Regions from separate parts of the Homo sapiens genome. Here all the other regions are reported to be linked to region 3. Evidence: microRNA targets listed by miRTarBase, many of them from high-throughput screens and not tested one by one. Region 3 holds a microRNA gene; each other region holds the end of a gene's coding sequence. Distances are from middle to middle.

What was found. Region 3 holds the annotated microRNA hsa-miR-3117-5p (AGACACUAUACGAGUCAUAU, at 4,110-4,129, opposite strand). A microRNA usually pairs through its seed, bases 2 to 8, with sites in the 3' UTR of a target mRNA and lowers its output. Matches are read on the target gene's strand: a 7mer-m8 pairs with bases 2 to 8, a 7mer-A1 pairs with bases 2 to 7 and ends in A, and an 8mer does both.
Region 1: the mRNA of SMC2 is a reported target of hsa-miR-3117-5p. Seed matches in the 3' UTR shown: 7mer-A1 at 5,291-5,297.
Region 2: the mRNA of FOXJ3 is a reported target of hsa-miR-3117-5p. Seed matches in the 3' UTR shown: 7mer-A1 at 5,814-5,820, 7mer-A1 at 4,898-4,904 and 7mer-A1 at 3,541-3,547.

What each region holds. Positions count from the first base shown.
Region 1 is chr9:104,138,464-104,146,605 of GRCh38, reverse strand. SMC2 (structural maintenance of chromosomes 2) reads right to left here. Exons shown (of 25, transcript NM_006444.3): 25 at 5,187-7,467. The coding sequence ends at 7,291. Among named protein-coding and RNA genes, the nearest start is that of SMC2, 48 kb to the right of the region's middle.
Region 2 is chr1:42,173,077-42,181,218 of GRCh38, forward strand. It overlaps FOXJ3 (forkhead box J3), which reads right to left. Exons shown (of 13, transcript NM_014947.5): 13 at 3,472-6,749. The coding sequence ends at 6,634. Among named protein-coding and RNA genes, the nearest start is that of GUCA2A, 12 kb to the left of the region's middle. RefSeq lists a silencer at 1-204 and an enhancer at 31-658.
Region 3 is chr1:66,624,439-66,632,580 of GRCh38, reverse strand. It overlaps MIR3117 (microRNA 3117), which reads right to left and starts at 4,141; the gene lies at 4,064-4,141. SGIP1 (SH3GL interacting endocytic adaptor 1) reads right to left here. Exons shown (of 25, transcript NM_032291.4): 2 at 6,671-6,734.

The DNA.
Region 1 (8,142 bases), not on the chromosome of region 3:
TTTCATGAAGCCAGGATTATCCTGAAACAAGAAAAAAAGAAAACCATGCCAATGCCTCTCATGAATAGAGACATTAAAACCATGACCAAATTATTAGCAAATACATTTCAGCAAATGCAGAAAGAATTATACATGCCATTCTCAAGTAGAGTTTATTCTAGGGAAAGACTGGTTCAATATTTAAAAATCAAGCAGTGTAATCCATGATATTAACAGGCTAAGGAAGAAGTTACATGATCATACCAATCAATGTGGACAAAGCATTGAAAAAATTCAATACTTATTCGTGATAAAAAACTGCCATCAAAATAGGAATAGAAGAGAACTTCCTCAGTTTGGTAAAGAGCATCTACCAAAACCTTACAGCTAACATTACACTTCGAGGTGAAAGAATACTTCCTCCCTGATTTTGGGAACAAGGCAAGTGTAGTGGCTCTCACCACACTTTTTTTTTTTTTTTTTTTTGAGATGGAGTCTTGCTCTGTTGCCCAGGCTGGAGTGCAGTGGCGCGATCTTGGCTCACTACAACCTCCGCCTCCCAGGTTCAAGCAATTCTCCTGCCTCAGCCTCCCAAGTAGCTGGGACTATAGGTGCCCGCCACCAGGCCTGGCTAACTTTTTGTATTTTTAGTAGAGACAGGGTTGCACCGTGTTAGCTAGGATGGTCTGGCTCTCACCATTCTTACACAACACAGTGCTAAGAAGTTCCAGTCAATGCCATAAGGCACAAAAGGAAATAAAAGGCATACAGATCAACAGGGAAGAAATAAAGCTGCCTATGATTGTAGAGGACATAATTGTCTGTGTAGAAAATCCCGCAAAATCTACAAGAAACCTAGAACTAAGAAGTTTAGCAAGGCCAACGGTTACAAGATAGACATATAAAAATTAATTATATACACTAATGATGAACATATGGATATTATTGTTACACATAAATACCCTTTATCATAGCTCAAAAAATGAAATATTTAGGTGTAAGTCTAACAAAATGTACAGAATGTTTTACAGAATGTTTCAGCATACACATTTGATTCCTGCTATTTTATTCCTCTTTGTCAAACTTGACTTAGATATTCTAGACTGTTGCCTTTCTATATATGGTGTACTGAAAATAATCAGTGTTGAAGTTAAAGATCTCAATAAATGGAGAGACATTCAGTCCGTATTCCTGGGTTACCAGGTTCAACATAGTAAGGATGTCAATTCTCTTTAAATTAATACCTAGGTTTAATATAATTCCTATAAAAATCCCAAGGCATTCTGTAGATATAGTTAAGATTATTCTGAAACTTGTATGGAAAGGCATCCATCAAGAATATCTAAATCAATTTTGACAAAGAGGAATAAAGTAGCAAGAATCAATCTAACTGACTTCAAGGCTTATTATGTAGGGCCATAATCAAGACTGTGAGATATTGGAAAAGGGACAGACACATAGATCAATGGAACAGAATAGAGAACCTATAATAAAAGTAGACTTAAAAATGCCCAAATAATTTTTGACACAGTTGGAAAAGAAAAAACCAACTCGATGTTTTTCTAGGAGGAAAGACAGACTTTTTTTTTAGACAGTCTCTTGCTCTGTTGCCCAGGCTGGAGTGCAGTGGTGCAATCTCAACTCACTGCAACCTCCACCTCCCAGGTTAAAGTAATTCTGCCTTTGCCTCTCGAGTAGCTGGGATTACAGGCACACACCACCATGCCTGGCGAATTTTTTGTATTTTTAGTAGAGACGGGGTTTCACCATGTTGGTCTGGCTGGTCTCGAACTCCTGACCTCAAGTGATCCACCTGCCTCGGCCTCCCAAAGTGCTGAGATTACAGGCTTGAGCCTCCGTGCCTGGCTAAGACAGCCTTTTCAACAAATTGTGCTGGAGCAATTGGATATCCATAGGCCAAAAAAAACAAAACAAAAAAACAAACAAAAAAAAAAAACTGGTCACCTCTGGCTCCTTTCCATGCTATGGATACATCCTTACTCAGTAATCAGGGCTCAGGCTCAGGTTCTGTTAGTGTACTGGTGTATGTTATAGCATTAGGAATGCTGGTGCCCTGTTTTAAAATAATGACCTCTGGCAAAATATCAGAACCACAACTAACAAAACCTTGAGGGGCTGGCACTTTGACACACCTTTTATTACATGAGTAAGTATCCCAATGGCAACAACAAAAACAGGGACTGGATTGTTGTTAGCCCTCTGTGTAGGGGCTTCATGAATAACATTGTACGAGAGAACCTGAGTGAATGCAACTATGCCATTAATAAGACTTGGTCACTGTGGTCTGTGACAGAATGAGGTCCAGAATGGCAGATCACTTTGTGGCCATGGCCACAGCTTAGGAGAACCTAACAAAGGTGTTATGCATCCAAACCATCCAGATCTCTCAGAGTTGACTCCATCTATGGGATAGGGGTCAGGCTGAGTTGGGGCAGTAACCCAGTCTGTCTATCCCTATCCTGAGGCCACTACCTCTGCAGGCCCCATTGCCCTTGTTACTTCACCCAGACCTTTTGGCCTCAGTGGTCTAGTCCAGGAAGGGAGGTCAGGTCCTAAACAAACTTGACCTATCTGATAACATCGCCCACCACAATGGAAGGATCAGATGTCTGTGACCTGTACACAAATGTTTACGGTATTCATACTAGCAAAAAAACTAGAGTCAACCTAGATATAAAGATACACACAGGAGTATTATTTAGCGTTAAAAAGGACATGTTATTTGTGACATGTATTAACATAGAAGGGATAATGCTAAGCGAAATCAAAGAGGCACAGAAAGACAAATACTCTAATGATCTCACTCATTTGTAAAATCTGAAAAAGTCAAACGCATAGAACCAGGGAGTAGAATGTGGTTGCCAAGGGCTGGGGAGCAGGGGAAGTGGGGAGATGTTTATCAAAGAATACAAAGTCATAGTTATGCATGATGAATAAGTTCTGGAGATCTGCTGTACAGCATGGTGACTATAGCTAATACTGTTATATATTTAAAATTTGCCAGAATACATCTTAATGTTCTCACCATACACACAAAAAAGGTAATTATGTGAGATGATATGTTAATTAGCTTGATTGAGGTAATCATTCCATAACATATACAAATATCAAAACATCACACTGTATACTATAAACATTACCATATCCTGTGGTACTACCCTTGAAATGCCTCAGACATTTCAGCCTCAGCCATCCAGTCCAGGAAGGGAAGTCACTTCTTGAATGATGACATGTCTGACAACATTGCCCAGCCAAATGGAAGGATCAGATGTCCCTGGCACTATCAGAGGGACTCTAGCATCCTGGTATTTCTTGGTCCTGTTTCCACCCTTGAGGGATCCCACAGGGAGTGCACCTGAGGGAAACGCTGACTCCAGATTAAGAGTTAGGGGGGCCTTTTGGGGTACTGTGGCAGCCTGAACTGCAAACCACCCACAGGATGTGCACTCTAAAAAGAGAAAATGGCTGGGAACACTGGAATTTGGATTTCACAGGCAGAGGCCGTCATCTGGTCCACCTGTACCTCCTCCAAGCTCAGTGCTTCTCAACATGTGCTGCAATCATGTGGTTCCCTTGCCCTGGAGGGCAGTGCTCAGTGTCCATACTGCCATATTCGGATGGGGTGGTACCACCCCACTTGTAGGCTATCTTGGTGTCCTTCCTTCACTCATTGTGAGCTGGCTTTCCATTGTTCAACAGCTCTATTGGACTGAGGATGACAGGGTGCATGGAAAACCCATTGTATTCCATGAGTGTGCCTGCTGTCATGTTCCTTGGGCAGTAAAGGAGGTTCCTTGTCAGAGCAAAGTTTTACAGGGTATCCAAAAACATAATTTAAGTTTCCCTAAAAGGTGGCTATGGTATTCCCAGCATCCACAGGTGACATGTATTTGTCCTTGCCAGTTAGCAACCTTTTGCCATACTCCTTGTAACCACACAGATCTTTTTCCACTTGGTTGTCATTCACCTGACCAGATAGCAAGGCTGTTCTTTTTGACAACTAGTGAGAAGTGGGGAGAAGTGGGTCAGTCCAAGGTCACCTGGAGAACGGTCTTGCAGGTGGCAGTTCAAATCACAATTTAATTTTATTATGGTAAACTGCAAACTGCTTGTCTTTTTCACAAAGATTCTCTTTGATGAAGTTCTAGCCAGGTTCTTCTGAGCCCTTTCTACGTCTAAATAAACCTTTGCCTGTAAAGATCTGAAAAAAACACTAGCAGTTTCTAACAGCTCAAAGCCACATCCATAGGTTGACTATCCTCCTCCTGAAAGTCAACTCCTGAGAAAACTCAAGGTTGCTGAGTTTACTGTTTCTTCCAACCAACACTTGAAGGTAGAGTCCCAGTCTCTGTGGGAGGGTAAGAGCCTACCTTGGCATTAGAGCCAGTTAACAAATCTAAATGGGTTTCACATCAACCAATTCCCTTTCCTGTTTATATCCCTGACTCTAAGCCCCCACTTATCCTCCTCTATTCCCTCATTCTCCCTTTAAGACACCCAGTCACCTCAATACAAATCAAAATTGAGTTCAGTTCATACTGGACTCTTCTTATTTCAAGAGTATGTTACTGATTTAAATCTATCCTTACTGTTTTAACTAGTATCTGGCTTTATCTTTGATGTGTTCTGTATCTAGAGTTCAGGGGTTAATTACTTTCGCTGACTTCATCTACTAAGTAAGTCTGGGGACCTCTTTCTCCAGGTCCTCGTTTATCCCTTCTGAGACGTCTCCTTCACTTTCTGGAAGCTGTGGTTAGCCCAGATCCCATCTTTTAGTTCTCCAGACCAGAAAGACCCCAGGCTTTCCACTGCAGCCTTAGCTGTCCTACAGCTGCATCATGACTATAGCTGGTACTTAGGTTAAAAACATTAACCTTAGCTTGTGCCTGTCTCTTCCTCCGTATTTTATCTCCCATCCAAAATCTTTCTAGTTTTTCTTCAGTTTCCTGAACTCTCAGGTAGTTGTTTCTAGTATTTTGCTCAGAATCTATATTTATCATCTGTGGGAATGTTGGCCTTTAGATTATGCCACCCTATTGGAAGAGAAAATTTCATGTCTTTGCTTTGCATTTGCTGTGAGCTTACTTGAAATGCCAAAACCGCCACCACCACAATGAATCCTCTCTTCACATGGTTGAGGTTCTTCTTTAAGGTAACATTCACGTTGTACATACTGCTCATACAGGTATTTTTCTTAAATTTATTCTGTACAATAAATACAAATGTTCAAGCTGTCAGTGACGTAGTATATCTTAGGTTCTGGAGACTGACAAGATTTGTCCATGGGCCCTGACACTCCTAACTGTATTATCACCCTGAGCAAGTTTCCTAACTTTTCTGCTCAACTCACTCAATTCCTCGATTACACCATGCTGACAACAACAGTATTTACCTCACTAGGTTACTCTGAGGATTAAATATGACAATACATACAAATGAGAACAGCAGCTAATGTAAAGAAAGAGCTTGTTAAATATTAGTTAACTCATATTACTGCAGATGTGTGAAACAAATGTCCCCAATCCCCTTAATGTCTTCCCTCTAATGAAAAAAAGTTACAACAATTTAATACATGTTTGAGGGTTTTCAAAGATCAAGATTATACAAGACAAAAATCAGGAACGCACACAAGCAAAACATTTTTAGCAGAGAAAAGGAAATGAGTACGTAAGCCAAAATAGTCAAACTCCCAAATTATTTTTAAAACGTTGGCTAAAACAGCAATGAAGTACCACTTAATAACTAACTGTTAAATCAGAAATATTAAAATTAACAGCAAGTACTGACTAATTTGTATACTATGGTATACTTTAATATTGACAGTGTGAATTGGTAACTGTTTTGGCACAGTCTGTAATACATTTGAAAGGAAACAAAAAAACTATATTTGACATTGGACTTTCTGTAACTCAACATTTACAGCATTATTTCCTCTCCCCTCCACAGTGGACAGAACTAATTCCAGATTCAATCCTTTCCAATGTGTCCCATAATATCAATTACTGCATGTTTTCTGACATCTCATATGTATGGAGAATGAAGGGTGGGAAATGTCAAGCCCAGGGCCAGGAAGTACGGCCATATATCAGGGGAAGTATGATAATAACACTAAGGAAATAAGACTAAAAAATCAAGAAGAGATGTGGGGCCAAAATAACACATGGAAGATCAGATTACATCATGTCAGACCTTTCATGATTCAGTTTGGGGTCACTGTTCTAGTGATGACGTACCAAAAACTGTAGACAGTATTCTCATGGTGTTCGCTAGTGTCATCTTTCAAGTTCTAAAGGAATTTCATCCCTTTGAACTGGAAAGCGGAAGACAAATAATCATCCAACTTTTGAGTTATTTTGGTGGAACAGATGGATTGAGTTATTTATATTTATACATATATATATCAGACTCAGGGAAAAATAAATTTGGTTTAGTCTACTGGCACCTACATTCTTGTTTACCAATAGGTTGTTAATGACTGGATTATGAAAAGGCTGACAAAAATCTTGGAAAATATTAACAAACTTCAGATAAATTTGCAGCAGATAGTACCACGCAACACACCTCCTAAGCTTTGATTTAAAAATACTTACACAGCTTAAAAAAACAAAAACATTAAAGTCGTAGAGACCAATTATTAAGCGTATAGGAACATGATATTCATGTATCATTAAAACGTAGAGACCAATTATTAAGCGTATAGGAACATGATATTCATGTATCATTAAAATAAGGATTCTTTCAAGATCTGTTTCCTATCTCAGTCTAAATCAGGGGTCTGGAGTTGTGGCCTTAAAAAACTAGCCTCAAACGGCTCCATGCATGCATAATAGCTTTATATGTGTTCCCTTTGTTGGTCCAGTTACCTGATTTATAATTCTTCCTTACCTGAATGACTTTAGAAAACACATTAATATTGCCTTAGGAATTAAATCAATTAAACACTGATGATCAGCTACATTTATCATGTAATTTAATCTGCTTTTTTGTATATTAGCTTTTACATATAGAATCGGGTATCTCAGGATCCCTAATATATAAAAGACCCGCATAAGAAAAAAACATTTGATGATATGCATAAAATCACAACCACAATAATTGGACCATAATTAGACTAGTTAAGAGATGAGGAATATATGCTCATTTGTAAGCGATAAGTGATTATATAAAGAGAAAACATGGGTTAAGTAACACAGTAACATTAATTTTTGTATATAAACAAATTAGTTATCTCAAGTCCTTAAAAGTTTACATTTAAAAAAACAGGTCAAGATGAAGAAATAACTTTGTAGTTTAAACTTCCACATGTGCTCCTTTGGGTGGTTTTGCCTTGGATTTTGCTTCCTTTGAAATCTTTCCATTTTGACATTGAGTAAATCTGGCTACTGTAGAAACACCATCCACAAACTTGGTTTTGAAAAGAACGTTTGCATTGTTGAACATACCTTCTTTTAGTGACACCACAATGAACTTAAGGAAAAAAGAAAAAAGTATAAAAAAACTTTTTGTGATATACTTGAAGTTTACTCCTTTATACTGGTGATAAGAATGGTTTGGAGATAATTTTATTTCTTTAAATAGTTATATGAGGCACCTAAATGAATGCTAGCTGTCCATATTGTTTTAGAAGTCTCTTAATTTTACTTTGGGTACTTCATTACCCAATTTTACTATTTCCTGGTGGTTGACTGCTTGTTGCTATCTTTTGTAGCTGGCATTCAGTTTTGTTGCTAACTAAAGCTGCTCTAGTGAGATATTTTTCTTGTGACATTTTAATATCAAAGAAGGTTTCAAGTTCCTATAGCACACCACTAGCCCAAACAGAACTTCTGAATAATTAGGCACTGCCCCGCCGCCCCATTCAATGTTATTTGCCAAAACACTGCTATAATAAATACACAATCCATGGTAACTATGAGTGGAGTCCCCAGAGTTGTACAATGCATAATTTATGCAAGCATATTTGGCAGCCCCAGCTCCTACAGCAATAGTGCATTAAAAACAAACTGTTCTTAGCTTCAAGAGGCTTTCTTTGTTCTACTTTTTAGCCATGAGAAATTAAATTTCCCCATCAAGTGTCACATGATTTTCTGATACCTCAGTTAAATATCCCGGAGACAGTTTTGTTTTGATTGTACATCTTTA
Region 2 (8,142 bases), 24 Mb from region 3:
GACCACAGCCCTCTGTATGCTTGCAGAAACCATGCCAGCCCCCAGCATTAGCTGGCCCCAGAAGAGGAAGGAGCAGAGCCTGAGGAGCCTCAGAGTGTGGGGCTGACACTGGGCACCTTCTCCCACCTGAGTCCTGGAGCAGGGGAGCCATAGGCACCAGGAGGCTGGGACGGGGCAGCAGACTTCAGAGGCAGCTCTAGAGTGGGCCCCAGCAGTATGTGGCCGAGAACTAGACAGGCTCCTTGGCTTCCTCCAGCAAGCTCTGACACAGGAGAGGAGGAGCACAGATTCTAAAGGCTGGCTAGTGGAATCCCTACCTTTCTTTAGGAGCACCAAAATCTGGGGGCTGCAGAGAAAGGGAGCACAGCCCTAAGTAAGGGTAAAGGAAACCCTCCAAAAGAGGAAAGGTGCACAGCCGGCAGCCCCGCCCCCTAGTGGCCACAGGCACTCACTACAGCCTAATTGCAAAGTAGCTTTGGCTTTGTTCTAAGGCCCTCATTCTCCGCCTGGTCGCTCCGGGAACAGGGCCTGAAACAGCACAATGTGGTGGTGAATGGCGCAGACATTGGAGCTGAATGGCCTAGGTTCAAAACCCCAGCTTTACTGTTGCTATTATTACCTGTGCCACTTACAAGCTGGATGACCTTGGGCAAGGGACTTCATTTCTGTGGCTCTGCAAGATGAAGTTGATAATAAGAGTATCTACTACACACAGTTACTTCAAAGAGTAAGTATGATAATCCACATCAGGTGCTTAGGATAAGTAATATTAAGTAACAGGAACTTTTAATAAAGAGTAGCTGTCCAATTCTGTACTTCTGAGGTCAGCATCGCTTAGGGGTACTGCAGGAGAGCTGGGGGTTGAAGCCCTGACCTAGGGTTGAATTCTGGTTCTGACGCAGTCAGCTACCAAGTCTCTGCTCTGTACATGTTGACTAGTCACATATATTAAGGGAAGAGTCCAAGGAGGTAAGCTCAAAAATCACTCTTGAAAATCCTTTGGGAAGGCAGCACTTTTGTGGATAAACATGTCTCAATAAGCCCAACCCGGCCAGTTTTTCTAGTTCTTGGTTGAAGTCTGTCTTTGAGCATTGGAGGAAGCTGCTGGCTTGAACCCAAGACAATGCTGCACGAAACACATGTCTCTTTATCCACCGGAATTGACTCAGTAATGAGATGCTCACGCAGAAGGTACATGGAAGCAAATACCAGTTATAGACTCAGATTTGAATCTTCCATCTCACACTCAGGGGCACATGTCCATCACAGGTGGATACTCCACCATTACATTATTTAAAATTTCCATTCCTTCTCTCTTTGGCCAAGTATATACAACTGAATTTACATGCTTTGATTGAACGCATTCATGATACAACTCCATTGTGTCTCACCTCTCCAAAGCTGTTTCTTCTTCTGTAAAATGAGGGCAGTAACAGTACTACATCATCAGACTATTGTGCAATCAAATAAGACAGTATGTGTAGGAATTTTAAATCGCTGCCAGACAAATGACTTTCATTCCCTTCCCCCAAATTTTCCCTAACTAACTGTGTGAAACGTGAGCAGACCCTTCCCTCTCTGGGTCTCAATGTTCTCCAACAACAAAATGTGGGGGTTGTGTTAGTTGATTTCTAAGGCCCCTTCCAGCTTGAAGCTTTTAGGATAGTGCTGTAATTCTAGGGCATTTAATGCAGTCAAACCTTCAATGCATTTGATCTTAGCCAAAAGGCCAAGAAGCTATCAAGCCTTCAGTGAATGTTAACTGATGCTTACATGGTTTTTCCAGGACTCCTTTACCCAACTGATAAGGGTCACATCTATAAACAGCAGCCCTTTGCACACTGTAGTATCTTAAAACCTTGAGAATTACACATGCATCTTAATCGCCTTTTCATTTGATCAGCAGAAGTATACTTCAGCTGCATCTGAATCAGCACAAGGTGACTACATTTAGTGGTGCCCTTACTACAGTCCTTCAGAGGCACCGCGAATGACAAATGCTTACCTGTGATGGGAGTGAAGCACAGCTTTCCCTCCAAGGAACACACACGGACACATGGACACACACACGGAGGATAGTCACTATCCTTGGCTTTGGGAAAATTCCTCTTTTTAGATAGCAGTGAGGTAAAAGGAAATGAACTCTGGAGTTAGGTCTGGACTGAATTATTCCAGCTCCTCTATTAGCTGTGAGAATTTGGGCAGGTTAACTTTTCTGGGCCTTGTTTCCCTATCTGTAAAACTGCCAAAGATGTTTCTGGTGGCATTGTGTGGGTTACGTTAGCAGCAGCCTGAGGCTTTGGGTAGATCATGGGATTGATGAAAAGGTCCCCCTTCTAGAGTGGGAGGGACTCCAGGTTAATCTCACTTCCAGCCACATGGCTGGTCTGCCCGTTGCTTAGCCTCTCCGGGCCTGTTTCCACATCAGTGAAGTGGGGACAGCATTTCTCACAGAATTGCTACGCTCAGCTCTTGACCAGCAGCCCTGCACTTCTCTTGCCTCAACCCACAACCCCCATGCTAAGGTAGCTCCCATGCCTTGCCCAAGGTAATGGTATAAATGGCAATACCTCCTCCCATCTGTCTGGGACCCTTTGAAGACTCAACTTGGTAGCCCATACCTGGAGCCTCTCCTAAACCACGGCCCCAATCCTCAGTATGACCTAACTCCGCATCACCAGAATCTTGCCTTACCAGAGCATACCTTCAGAATAGCCTCCCTGGGCTGGCATTTGCTACCTGTCCTGGGCAAGTCTGCACCCTCTAAAGGCAGGAACTGCGGCTTCCTCATCTCTGGATTTCTCATGAGAGGGCTTAACACAGAATATGTGCTCAGCAAATGTAAAGCCCCACTTTCACCTTTTGGAAATAGCTCTGGGAAGGCAGTGCTGGGGACAAGATGGGGCAAGGGCAGGGGGTAGGGAGAGGGGAATTCCCTCAGTAAGTATGAGAGGATTGTGCAAAAAACATGATGCCTGGAATCAAATGACCTGGATTCAAACCTCTGCTCTATCACCTGCCAACTGAAGAATCTAGACAAGTTTCTATACCTCTATCTGAGCTGTTCCCATGTCGGTAAAAGGAGGACCACAATATCTACTTAGCACAGCACCTGGCACATACTGAGTACCAGTATGCTTTATGTCCCATGTGCTGTCCTAAATGTTTAAATGTACTGATTTATGTAAATCCCACTACAACTCTAGGAGGCAGATACTATCCTCATTGTACTGGCGCTGCAAATAAGGAAAATGAGGCCCAGGGAAATCCAGTGACTTCCCCAAGTTCATGGAGCTAATAAGATGCTCACTAAATGGCAGCAATTACTGTCCTCAGGTAGTAATGCAAAGGACACAATCTCAGTGACCCCAAGGACTCTGGGGTCCTGGCTGTGGGGTTTCTGCACCTGGACTAGCTCCATTCTCACTTCTTCAATTACAGCAAACAACGGAGACCAATCAGTGTTGTAAATAGAGTTAACATAATATATTTATTTTAAGTGCCATTCATGCATATCAGTTCTGGCAGCAACAATCCTAATGACACTTGGAATATTTCTTTACAGCACTAAACAGTTACAAATAATGGTTGCCGTTCATCATAGAGGCAAAATATGAAATCGTGCAATAGCAAAACTGTAGAAACATTAAAACACTGACTGTCCAACAGCAGTACAGAGAGCAGGTTGTATCTGCACAAAAAGCCAATGCATTTTCATCACATATATACAATATAGATATGTACACATCACCCTCTGAATGAACAATATCAAAATACTCTATTCCATTTGAAATTATCCCCGGATTGATTCCCTCCCACTTCAAAGGACATCTGAGCGACACGTATTTACAAGAACACACATGAATACATTTACATTTCAAAAACTGCCACAAATGCCAGTCGGATTATTCTCCTGAACAGAGTGTCCCCATTTGTTTACATGCATTTACTATTCTTTCCCCCTAAAGTCTTCAGTCAATTTAAGCCCAAGACAGAACTTGTTCTGCATTAGCAACTACCATACAAAATGGCCACTAGAGGGACTCTCTGCACCTCACCAGGTAACCCTGTCTGGCCAGGGCCCACAGAAAAGGCCTGTCCTGGGCTCCTGGACCACCTGGATCACAGGAGAGTGGGATGGGTCTGGGTGAAGGCTTTGCCTCCATGGCCATTCTTGCTAAGTTTAAATTCTCATAAAAATATTCATCACTGCAAATCAGTAAATGATTGCCAAATGGGAAATTCGCTTCACACAATTTATAAAATCATCATCAGTGGTTCTACTCAAATCACTCAGTATGAGACTGCATTCCAATATCCAAATTGTTTAAAGTGCACATTGCTACCCAAGCAATTAAAACAGTTTCAAAACAGCTATTTTGGTGTCTAGAAAACAGTGACTTAAGCAAACCATTGAAAATCACCCCTCTTTTTTCAAGCATTTACTCTGCAGGCTGCCATCTCATCTTGCCTCTGATCCTTCTAAGAGGCGCAAGTTGGCTGCCTTTCCAGAATCCTCTGATTTTCGTTGATCCAAGGGGCTGGAACTGAGCTTCCTTTTTCATGCCAAGTAGGGTCCAAACAACAGAGAAACATAAAGCTCTTCCTTTCTCCCCAACCTCACCAGCCCTTACCATGGCTGGCTTCCCAGTGATTCATTCAAGGCAACACTCCATTAAAACACACACACACACACGCGCGCGCACACTCTCACACACAGCACACACACACAGAAACAAAAGATGTTTGTTTAGTTCAAGTAGAGATTACTCAACCATAGAATCACTAAGGCTAATTAAAGTGATTTAGCATGGCTGATAAGACCAGAGATGCTAAAAAGCAACTAGTGAGCAGTTATTACTCTTTGACTTGATGGAATATATTTCCCCATTAGAACTGACACTTTTTGGGGGGTCTAAAGAATCAATTCAAAATCTATTCATTAAAAAAAAACCCTCATTTCTTCTAGTTTTATCATAAAACTAAGATAATCAGTCCATGCAAACTGTGATATGATATGAAACAAAACAAACCACCACCACTAAAAAACCCGTAAGAGGGGCTGCATTTCAAAGAAAGGGACCAAATGTCATGCATACACAGACATACAAGACAACAGAAACAGCAGGCCACATAATATCTACATTAAACACTGAAGCAAATAAAACTGTAAGTGGCTCTATCCTCCTTTCAAGACAACCTAGATGAGTGGGGAAACCTGCTTTAGAAACCCTGCCCTGCTGTTGTTGCCCAAATGAAATCTGATTCAAATTCCAGAAAAATCCGATTTAACTAATAAGTCTGAATCAGCAAGAATGCCAAGACAGAGAAATCTATTCACATGGTAAAAGGAGTGATGATAGAGAATGACACAATGTCTCTCTGAGTGTCTTATCTGTAAATTCTTATCAAGAAAAGTAACGCTGGGCCAGGCGCAGTGGCTCATGTCTGTAATCCCAGCACTCTAGGAGGCTGAGGCAGGCAGACTGCCTGAGCTCAAGAGTTTGCAACCAGCCCAGGCAACATGGTGAAACCCCATCTCTACTAAAATACAAAAAATCAGCCAGGCATGGCGGTGTGCACCTGCACTCCCAGCTACTCGGGAGGCTGAGGCAGGAGAATTGCTTGAACCCGGGAGGCGGAGGTTGCAGTGAGCCGAGATCGTGCCACTGCACTCCAGCCTGGGCAACAGGGCAAGACTCCATCTCAAAAAAAGAAAAAAATAATAATAGTTCTGTGCTTTCAGACACATTTCTCCTTAATGAACCCGACAGGAGCTAAGCATTCACAGAAGGTAGCAATAAATATTAAAATGACACTTTTGAATAATAAATACATAGGTGAATGTGGAAGCACTGATGTGTTTAAAGAGCCAAGCAATGCCCAATTTCTTACCAATCAACAAATTTTAGAGCTATTATAATGCAGATTTAGAAAAGCAGACATAAATACTCTATGATCCCCCAAGCATCAAAACCAATTTGGTCAGTTCTTCATGCTGCTCAGGAGCAACATGCCCCTTCGGATTGTTGGAGTGTGTCAAATTCTGGTTTCCTTGACTTATTAGATAGAATTCATTACCCACATTTCTAAAAAAGATTAAATAAGGGGAACTGGGTTTTGGAAAAAATCTATTTCCTTTCAGTTTCCTACATCAGTTAAAAGCATCCTGCAGAAAATAGCCTAACAAGGAATAAAAACTGACAATAACTTTCAAGACATAATAATCCAATTAGAAAAAACTGAAGCCTTTCAGTAATTTTTGTACATATATTTACACATATGTATCTTTATATAAACTGCTTGCAGCAAAATAGGCTCCGTCTGAAAAATCAGTCTGGCACTTGTGGTTAACATCAAACTGACACAAATATGCAAAAAGCCGTCCAAATCACACAACAGTTAGGAGCTACATAGGGCAGCTGGCAGGGAGACAAACATGTAGTACTTGCTTGGGTCAGATAAAAGCAGTAAGTTATCCAGCTAAAATCCTTCTGATTGTCTTCAAAAGTAATTTTGATAACATTGGTAAAGTGATTAGCAAGTTTGTTTTCTCAACTGGATTCTCTTAAACCTTTCCCTTCACTGCACAGAAAGGTAACGTTAGGGTCTGGTGTCTTGCAGAAACAAGCCCTACACAATTGAATCCCAATCAAAGTCATCCTGGATGTCATCTGGAGGCAGGGAACGCCGCATCTGGAAGGCTTGGGAAGGCATCATGTGCTGCTGGTTCATGGCTCTGTGATGGCCTGGAAGGAAAGAGGCAATAATAGCAGCGACTTGGGTAGAGAAGAAAGTAAGAAATAAACTAACCCCTACTGTGTACTTCCTATATGCCAGGCACACATTATCTCACTAATTCAACCATAAGCCTTCAAAAAGTGGCTCTTATGATCCTTATTTTATAGGTAAGGGGATACGGTTTAAGAGGATGAGTAAATTACCCAAAGTCACACAACCAGTAGGGGACAAAGATAGGATCTGAGGTCAGTTCACTTGATCCACACTCCTTCCATTATACCAGGCTGCAGTAAGGAAGACACGAGAAAAGTGCCAATGTAGCCACTGCTCTTACAGTCTGTTTTGCTCCAATACGTTGTTTCAGTAACATGAATTGGCTCCCATGAGAATGGTAAACAGGATAATGATGGCAGTGCACCAATGACGTCATACTGAATTTTCCCCAGCAAGCTAATTTCTGTGCCACCAAGTAATGTCAAGTGAACACAGAGGACATCAACAAGGGAACACAGGAAACCAGAAGGAACCACAGCTGAGTACAGAATGCCCACCTTCCCATGCTCTTCTTGTACCAGTTTGGCCATGTGCTGTTTATGCTCCCCAATTTTGATTCATTGGGTCTGTGTCTCCACCGTATCTTGACAGACCCCCCCCTTCTAAACCAGCTGCTTTTTAAAAGTAGAGGTTGATATTTACTTGTAGAATTCTTTCTTTTATTACAAATTATACATATCCTTTTAACTGTTGTGGAAGTTTTACTGGATTTTTTTTTAGTACTCTGATTACAAAATTTCAAGTAGTCTGCTACTCATTTTTCTCATATGCCCTGAAATATTTTCTTGTACAATTATTTAATGCTAAGGTTTTCAGTATATCACAATATAGGTAAAATGCCTCCATTTAAAAAAAACTTATAAGTTCCTTAATGTGGGTCAGGCACTAATTTACATGATTCTCATTCAATCCTAACAACTCGAGGACACAGGTAGTTTTATTAGCCCCTTTTACAAACAGGGAAGCTGAGGTAGGAGGGTTAGGTAGCTTGCCTAATATCACACAGCCATTAAGTGGCAAAGCATGAAGATTCAAACACAAGCAATCTGGCTCCAGAGCCTTACCACCTTATGGTGCCACTTACAAATTAGTAGTAAGCACTCACAACAGGTTAACATTCCTTCCCCCTTCAGCAAAGGACATATCACTTGATCCCAACTCCTTCCTCACTGCTGTCTGCCACACAGTTCTTCAAGGTTTTAAATCCACCCCCAACCCCATTACCTTTATGTCTTTTCCTCAAATAGCCTAAGTAAAGGATTGTGTGGTATGTGAGAAAAACAACGGACTCTGAATCCAGACACTGGGGCTTGAGTCTTGATCTGGCCACTCACTAAACTGGGTGGC
Region 3 (8,142 bases):
CCCAGCCTTGAACTGCTGGGCTCCAGCGAACCTCTGCTCCAGCCTCCCGAGAAGCTGGGATTGCAGGAGAGCATCACTGAGCCCAGCCGTTTTATCTTTTCTTCTGCGAATGGTCCTGAATTGCCTCCTAGATGAAAAAGCTTCTGTGGTATTTTTCAACTTTATTTTGAGAATTGGTACTTTCCTCCATATTTCTCTGTTTACCTCTCCTTCCATTATAGAAGAGCAGGAAATGGAGAACAACATTTTGCTAAATGCCTCCTTCTGATGACTAAAGCCCGGGGCAGCTATTCTATGGTGGCACTATGCTGCAGTGGTCAAGAGCAAGGGCTTTCGAGTAAGATGAAGCTGGGTGTCCAAATAGTTCTATGACCTTGAACACTTAACCTCTCTAAGCCAGTTTAAATAAGATAATATATAGAGAGAACTTACAATAGTTCCTGACACATGGTATTCAAAACTGTGAGTTGATTATAATTTCTTTTCTCTTCCAAGATGTCTCTTCACTAGGAACACAAAACTGCCCACTTACAGCCACACTGGACTTTAGGGCAGTGTAGGAGAGGTATTAGAGGTATTTTGGAAAACTGGATTACAAGAGCAGAGGGAGAAACTAAAAGGTAGCCACAGTAATTTTATAACCTCCCATTTTAATTCAGTTTTTAAGAGGCTAAAACATACAGCGATACGTATTATGCTTCGAAAGGGAGCCTCATTATTTGGAAGAAAACCTTAATAAGTGCTTGAGGTGAACTTTGATGTCTTGAGGAGTTTGGTGTGGGGTTGGAACCATTCTTCGGAAGGTGCAATCAGGTAAGAAAATTATTGCTTCATGGCAGGGAGCCCGTGAGAAGAGAGAGAGAGAGAGAGAGAGAGAGAGAGAGAGAGAGAGAGAGAGAAAGAGAGAGAGAGAAAGAGAGAGAGAGAGCAATGCAGAGAGTTGGTAGGATGCCATCTGGACTCCAAGGTGTGATTCCCTTTCCCCACCAACATCCCTTCAAAATTAGCAGAATATTCTACTTGGATTATAATACACTTGACAGAGTGCATATTTTTCATAACTAGTGAGTTCTGTGTCCACACAGATGCAGAGGTGAATCAGTGATACAGGGACAAGAAACAGAGAAGATTCTGATATTGAAAGACCATGGGAATTGACAGAAATCTTGAGACTTTTGGACATTACCTGGATGTGGAAATTAACCAGTTTGAAAAAATTTTATTTAAAATAGAATGATAGGAAGAATCTTGGCCAACAAAAGTGCTTGTAATGAGCCAGGTGATTGGTTAGGACCAAAGGATAAAAATAATGAAAACATATTAATCTCAGAGAGAATGAAATGGGTGAGTAAATCCAGTGGGTTATCATGGTCATAGTAAGCCCAGGCTAGCAGGAGAGCACTGAGGATAGGTACCAATCCATACTCATCAAAGCCAATTCTCTTTTTGTATCTATATACTGAGTCAGTCTTTCTTTTTTTCTTTCTTTCTTTCTTTCTTTCTTTCTTTCTTTCTTTCTTTCTTTCTTTCTTTCTTCCTTTCTTCCTTCCTTCCTTTCCTTTCCCTTCCTTCCTTTCCTTTCCCTTCCTTCCTTCTTCCTCTCTTTCCTCTCTTTCTTTCTTTCTCTTTCTTTCTCTCTTTCTTTCCTTCCTTCCTTCCTCCCTCCCTCCCTCCCTTCTTTCTTTCTTTCTTTCTTTCTTTCTTTCTTTCTTTCTTTCTTTCTTTCTTTCTTTCTTTCTTTCTTTCTTTCTTTCTTTCTTTCTTTCTTTCTTTCTTTCCGGAGTTTTGCTCTTGTCACCCAGGCTGGTGTGCAATGGCAAAATCTCAGCTCACTGCAATCTCTGCCTCCCAGGCTCAAGTGATTCTCCTGGCTCAGCCTCCCAAGTAGCTGAGATTATAGGCATGCATCACCACGCCCAGCTAATTTTGTATTTTTAGTAGAGAAGCAGTTTCACCATGTTGGCCAGGCTGGTCTCAAACTCTTGACATCAGGTAATCCACCTACCTCAGCTTCCCAAAGTGCTGGAATTACAGGTGTGAGCCACGGTGCCTGGCCAATATACTGAGTATTTCTTACTAGGACTTCAACTTACTAGGACTTAATATCTCCACATATGAGTAATTCTTACTAGGACTTCAACCTCTGCTAATGGAGCTGGGAGAGAAGTGATTGCATCAACTTTTGGGTAGGATGTGTTTAGAGGCACTGATCCATGTGGAGATGCCTTTGGGAACAGCAAGAAATAGATGCGGCAAAAGCTCGGAGATTGGCCTGGCTGTGGTGTTGCTCACTGTGAATCCAGGTACAAGGTCATATCAGTAGGGGATCTTAAATGGGAGGCATTTGACCTCATGCTTATTGCAGCCGTTGGGATGGTCTTCCACAATTTTTAATCAGAGAAACTGTGATTGTACATAGCAGCACTGGAGTCCTATTCTGATCCTTTGTCTTCTCGACTGATGGAAATGTGGCTCATGTGTCCTGTGGAGTCAGTCAGCATGGTGGCTAAGGGCACCGGCTCCAGTGCCAGACTGCATGGGATCAACCAATGTCGATTTCCTAGCTGCAGAAGCTTGGGCAAGTTACTTCACCCCTTTGTTTCTCAGTTTCTTCATCTATAAAATAGCCATCATAACAGCATATATCCCATAGGGCTATTAGAGGATTCAGTGGACTAACATAAGTGAAGAACCTGAGACAGTCTCTAGAACATAGTAAATGCTCATTAAATGTTTTCTAGAATAATAATTTTTATACACTATGACCCAGGTTAGGGAGTGAAGAGATTTTAGCAGCCTCAGACACTTGGGCATGTGTTCTAATTTCACTTTCTAACCCCCTCTAATGAGGTTTTATATTGTATTTTAAAATAATTTTTTTCTTTTTCATGGCAGACTTATTGTATTTGCTGACTTCTATTTTAAAAAGAATCATCTACCATGGACTTTTGGCATCTATATTTTAAAGTTTCAGTTACCTTTTGTAACTACTGTCTTTTTTTTTTACCCTCCTATCTGTCTGGATTTTAATTCTACCCATTGATATCTTTTCTTTTGGGTGATGAAAGCACAGACACTGGATTTTAGACTAGAATATGGCCTCCAAGTCTTAGTTTGTGGGTAGCCTTCAGAAAGTTACTTATCCCCCTTTGGCACTGATATTTCTCTTTAAAATTGATGTATTACTGCTAACCTTATTTAATTACTAGGAAGACTAAAAAAGATATCAGCGCAACATATGTCCTGCACAGGGCCTTCCACTTAGCACAACCTCTCTCCCTTCCTCTATCAGCTGCTGTAATGATGACCAAATCAGGAAATTCTGGTCCTAACCCCACTGTATATCTTAGGAGGTTCAATCAGCTGAAGTTGGTGCTGGTGTGTCTACCCTAGCAGGTTGCTGAGCAACCCACAGTGAGTTGTAGCAGCCCTGAAAACAGTTTGCATCAACAAGGCTTCAATGATCACAGACAAACACAAGCATTTACTAAAGCTGAAGGGACAGCAAATTGCTAGAGTGCTTTCCCAACCCCTTTGCATTTATGATTTCTTTTCTGAGAATGATATATGATCCAATTACAGAGTTCACGAAAGCATTAGGGAGTTCATGAAAAGCAAAGGCTTATACTAAACATACTAAACAGCTTGTCCTTTGACCATCACTGATGGTGGAACCAGCTTCAGCTATTTTGCTATCACGTAAGTAATTTGGGACTCTCAAATGATAAGTTAAGGAAGGATACTTGGGATTCTTTAAACAAATGTCTCGTTAGAGTACCTCAGAGAGATATTGGGCCTCTACCCGTAGCTGTGAGGAATAACTCAGTTATTTTAATAACTTTAGAAATGATGATGGAAGAGTAGTGCTTTGGCTACATGTAAATTAGTTCAGCCTGCCCTGTAGAGGTTGTTCAACCTTTTCTCTCTCGAGAAAGCTTTTTTCCATTCCAACTTTCCTCACATGCCAGAAATCTCTGGTGCAGTCAATTACAGACATTGTCTTCATTCAGAAATGGATTTGGTTTCCATTAACGATGTTCTCCTGAGATCCATCGAATAGTGTCCCACAAAACACCTGGCACTATATGAGTCCTATAATGCCTTCCCTTATATGACTCGTATAGTGTCTGGCCCTTTAGGGAAATTCGATTCCATCTAGTGTAAATTTCTTTGTTGTTGTTGTTTACAGGTGTGGAAACTGAGGCCCAGCAAAGTAAAGGGTAATTCCCAAAGCCATGGAGTTTTGGCAATGCTGGGACTACAGCCCAGGTCTTCTGATCTAGTGAAGGCATCATCACATATTCTGGGTGGTTAATGATTAGAAAATGGCAAGGGAATATAAATCATGCTGCTATAAAGACACATGCACACGTATGTTTATTGTGGCACTATTCACAATAGCAAAGACTTGGAATCAACCCAAATGTCTAACAATGATAGACTGGATTAAGAAAATGTGGCACATATACACCATGGAATACTATGCAGCCATAAAAAATAATGAGTTCATGTCCTTTGTAGGGACGTGGATGAAGCTGGAAACCATCATTCTCAGCAAACTATCGCGAGGACAAAAAATCAAACACCACATGTTCTCACTCATAGGTGGGAATTGAACAATGAGAACACTTGAACACAGGAAGGGGAACATCACACACCGGGGCCTGTTGTGGGGTGGGGGAGGGGGGAGGGATAGCATTAGGAGATATACCTAATGTTAATGACGAGTTAATGGATGCAGCACACCAACATGGCACATGTATACATATGTAACAAACCTGCACGTTGTGCACATTGTACCCTAGAACTTAAAGTATAAGAAAGAAAATGGCAAACTTCTTAAGAAACAATGTAAATTATATAATCCTCAGAAAAATATTGCTAACTTAATTATTTAGAAAAATTTGCAGGACAACAGTAAATGTAATATTCTTGAAATAAATAGTTACAAAAGAAAATGCAAAAAGAAAATATAAGAACTTAACATTTGGCATCTAGACAAAAAATAACTTTGTTCGCCCAATCCTTTGCACTCTTTGGCTTAAAAACTTTCATGGTTTCAAGGTGGCCCACTGCCTATGGAAGTAGCCCACACACTTCAGCCTGGTACTTAAGGCCCTTCCTATCTGGTCCTGGTCTCCTTTCCAGCCTTGCCTTCCATTATCACATTTACCTGTAACCCCAAGTAGACAAACTGCCCCATTTGTCTTGTCAGTAAATGCCTAGTGGACTTTACTACCTTTCCACTTTTGCTTTTGTTGTTCCCTTTGCATGAAATACACATCCTCATCTTCTTGAAGGCCAAACTCAAGTCTCCTCCCCCACCCCGAAGCATCACTGATCATCAATCCAAATATGAGATTTTTCACCCTCAAATTCCCATGAAATCCCATCTTAGTTGCTTGTAAGGAACTTACACATACTAATTTGTGTCAGTAATAATAAGAGTACCAGCAACTGCCATTTGCTGAGCATTTACTAAGTATTAGGTACCATATTAGTCATTTCAAATATGTTACCTCATTAGTTGTACAAACAATAATTTATGTAGTAGATATTTTATCTCATGAATCATAAATTCTTAAAGGACAAGGGCCCAGGGAAATACTCAGGATCTTGTGACAAAATTTACGCATGATAAAAATATACAGAATGAAAAGCTAAAGGTGAGAATAAATGTGGCTTTCTTCATTTTCACCTGTGCCCATACAACTGTTGCTTTTCCCATTTTCTAACTTTCTTTCAGAGATTCTAGCCAAATGAGGGGTATAATGGGCTTGATTCTGACGTACAGCAAACTACATCAGTTCTGCATTTCTACCTGGTCACAACCACCTGCAGCTGAATAGTTGTGCTCTCCCTACACTGGTCTTGGGCTGGAGTCTCAAGTTCCCGGCCAGTGGACTTCACATATATAAGTTACCTGCTTGGCTGCAAAAGGCAACTGAGGTTTTGTGTCAGAGCCAAATACTTCTGCAGGAGAATTCAAGATGGTCAAATAAGTGGAAGGAAGTTTGTGGAATGAAACTGTTATGTCATTGCACATTTTCAGAGTCTATCAGTGTCTGTGGGCAATTAATTCTCTTGGATATGACACTTAAATATGTAAAAGCATCCCCACAGTTGTTTCTGGCATTTGTTTCTTATTCACTGCTAAATATCCAATAATTCCTGAATTCTGTTGGTTGATTTACAATTTGGCTTGTACAAAATCTTGGCATCTCAAGTAAGAGCTTGGAGATGTTATCTAGTCTACATTTCTGTTTCTGGCTAGGTCTAATCTATCCAAACAGGTGTTTTGTTGTTTCTTTAGTTCAGATTGTAAGGTCAACCCTATATGTGGAAATGAATTATTTTTATCCTTCATAAAAGTAACAGTCACATTTTCTGCCTCCTGAGACTGCTGGGAAGTGTAATGATCAAAAAAAAAAAAAAAAAAAAAAGAAAGAAAGAAAAATGTGATAAAAACTGAACACATGATGAAAAATTTTTACCTTTTTAGCATAAATCTAAGAACTGTTTATATTGAATAATTACAATTTACTCAGAAATGAGGAAAGCAAATAGTACACAATATCCGAGAAAACTGTGGCCATCTTATATTGACTGTGATAAGAGCATCTCTTATGCAAATAGCTTCTTCGAGGAGGCAAACTCCTAAAGTACATACGTAGAATCAGTGTCCTTTTCTTTCTTCCGTATTCCAAAGGCCTTCCTTGTACGTTTTTTCAATCCTGTGGGAAAACAGCAAAGGGTCAAAAACTCTCTCAGCAACATTCAAGTGAACATATTTTGAAGGTTGTAACACACCAGTTAGACTTAAATGTTTAGAAAGCAATGAAGTTTCTGAAGTTGTATGTAAAGGTATGTGTGTCTGCATGTCCATATGATTCATTATTACATTTTTTCAATAGTTACTTATCAAGGACTTCATACCATAAGTTCTTAGCACTATAAGCAACATAAGGATATATGGATACATGGGTATAGAAAAGATTGCAAGATTTTCTTAGACTACTGTTGTTCATCACCCATATTGGGGTTCTGCCAGGAAGCCAAATCACAGATTTAGAAGAATAGCCATTTTCAGGTTAGACATATTCTTTAGACTGGGATAATGCCAAGACATGGATCATGTGGCCCATGCCAAGAGAACTGCACAGATCTGACACATCTTTGTGTCTCGTATTCCCATCTTATCTTTTACTGCTTCCTCCAGTCTGTGGCTGCATTGAATTATTAACCATTCTCTGAACACACCCCAAAATTTGCACTCCTGTGTCTCTTTCTTTCTTGTTCGGTCCTTACTTACAGTTGAAATGCTTTTTCTATTTTGTGGACGTTTAGAATTTCAATTCATCCTTTAAGGCCCAGACCAAATGTCTCTCCTTCTGCAGGGCTTCTTAATCCTAGAGGCGTAAGACACTGACTACTCTATGCTCCCCACAAAATGTTGCTCTTATATGTATTATGATATATCAAATGGTATCACCTATTAGTCCCTGTGTCAGTTTCCCTAGTAGGCTGTGATCCTTTCTTGAACAAAGGCCAAGGCTCCCTCATTTATAAGTCCAGATAATATTTGTGATTTCAAATATCTTCCAGGAAGCACCATTCAAGCAGCACTGGCTAAGAAAGCCCTTTTCTTCCATCCTGACAAGCCAAGCCCAGTCTTGGTTCTTCTGTACTTCTCTTGTCAAGGCTGTTTGTGTTTCCCATCCCTCACATGTTCCATAGTTACAGACATGCCTTGTGCTTCTGTTAGTGAGTATTATTCAAATATACTAAATGTTTATATATTCAAACCTTAGACTTATTATTGGTGGTTTGGAAAGTCTTCTTGAGAAATTGGAGCTGAGAAAGTCACTGATATTTCAAATTTGTTTGGTACTACCAGGTGGAACAAAGGGAAAAACAATGACAGATTCAGTGAGTTGATGATACATTTTTCCAAAACATGTGAGTCAGCCCAAACCACTCAGACTATCTGAGTCATTCATTATCTGCCTCTTAGGATACTACTCAAATACAATCTTCAAAATGTCTCTGTTCTGTCTAATTTTGTATTTTAATAGTCATCCATTTAAGACACTTAGGTCTTTAAAATGTCAATTTTTAAAAAAGTCCTCCCATATAAAACTA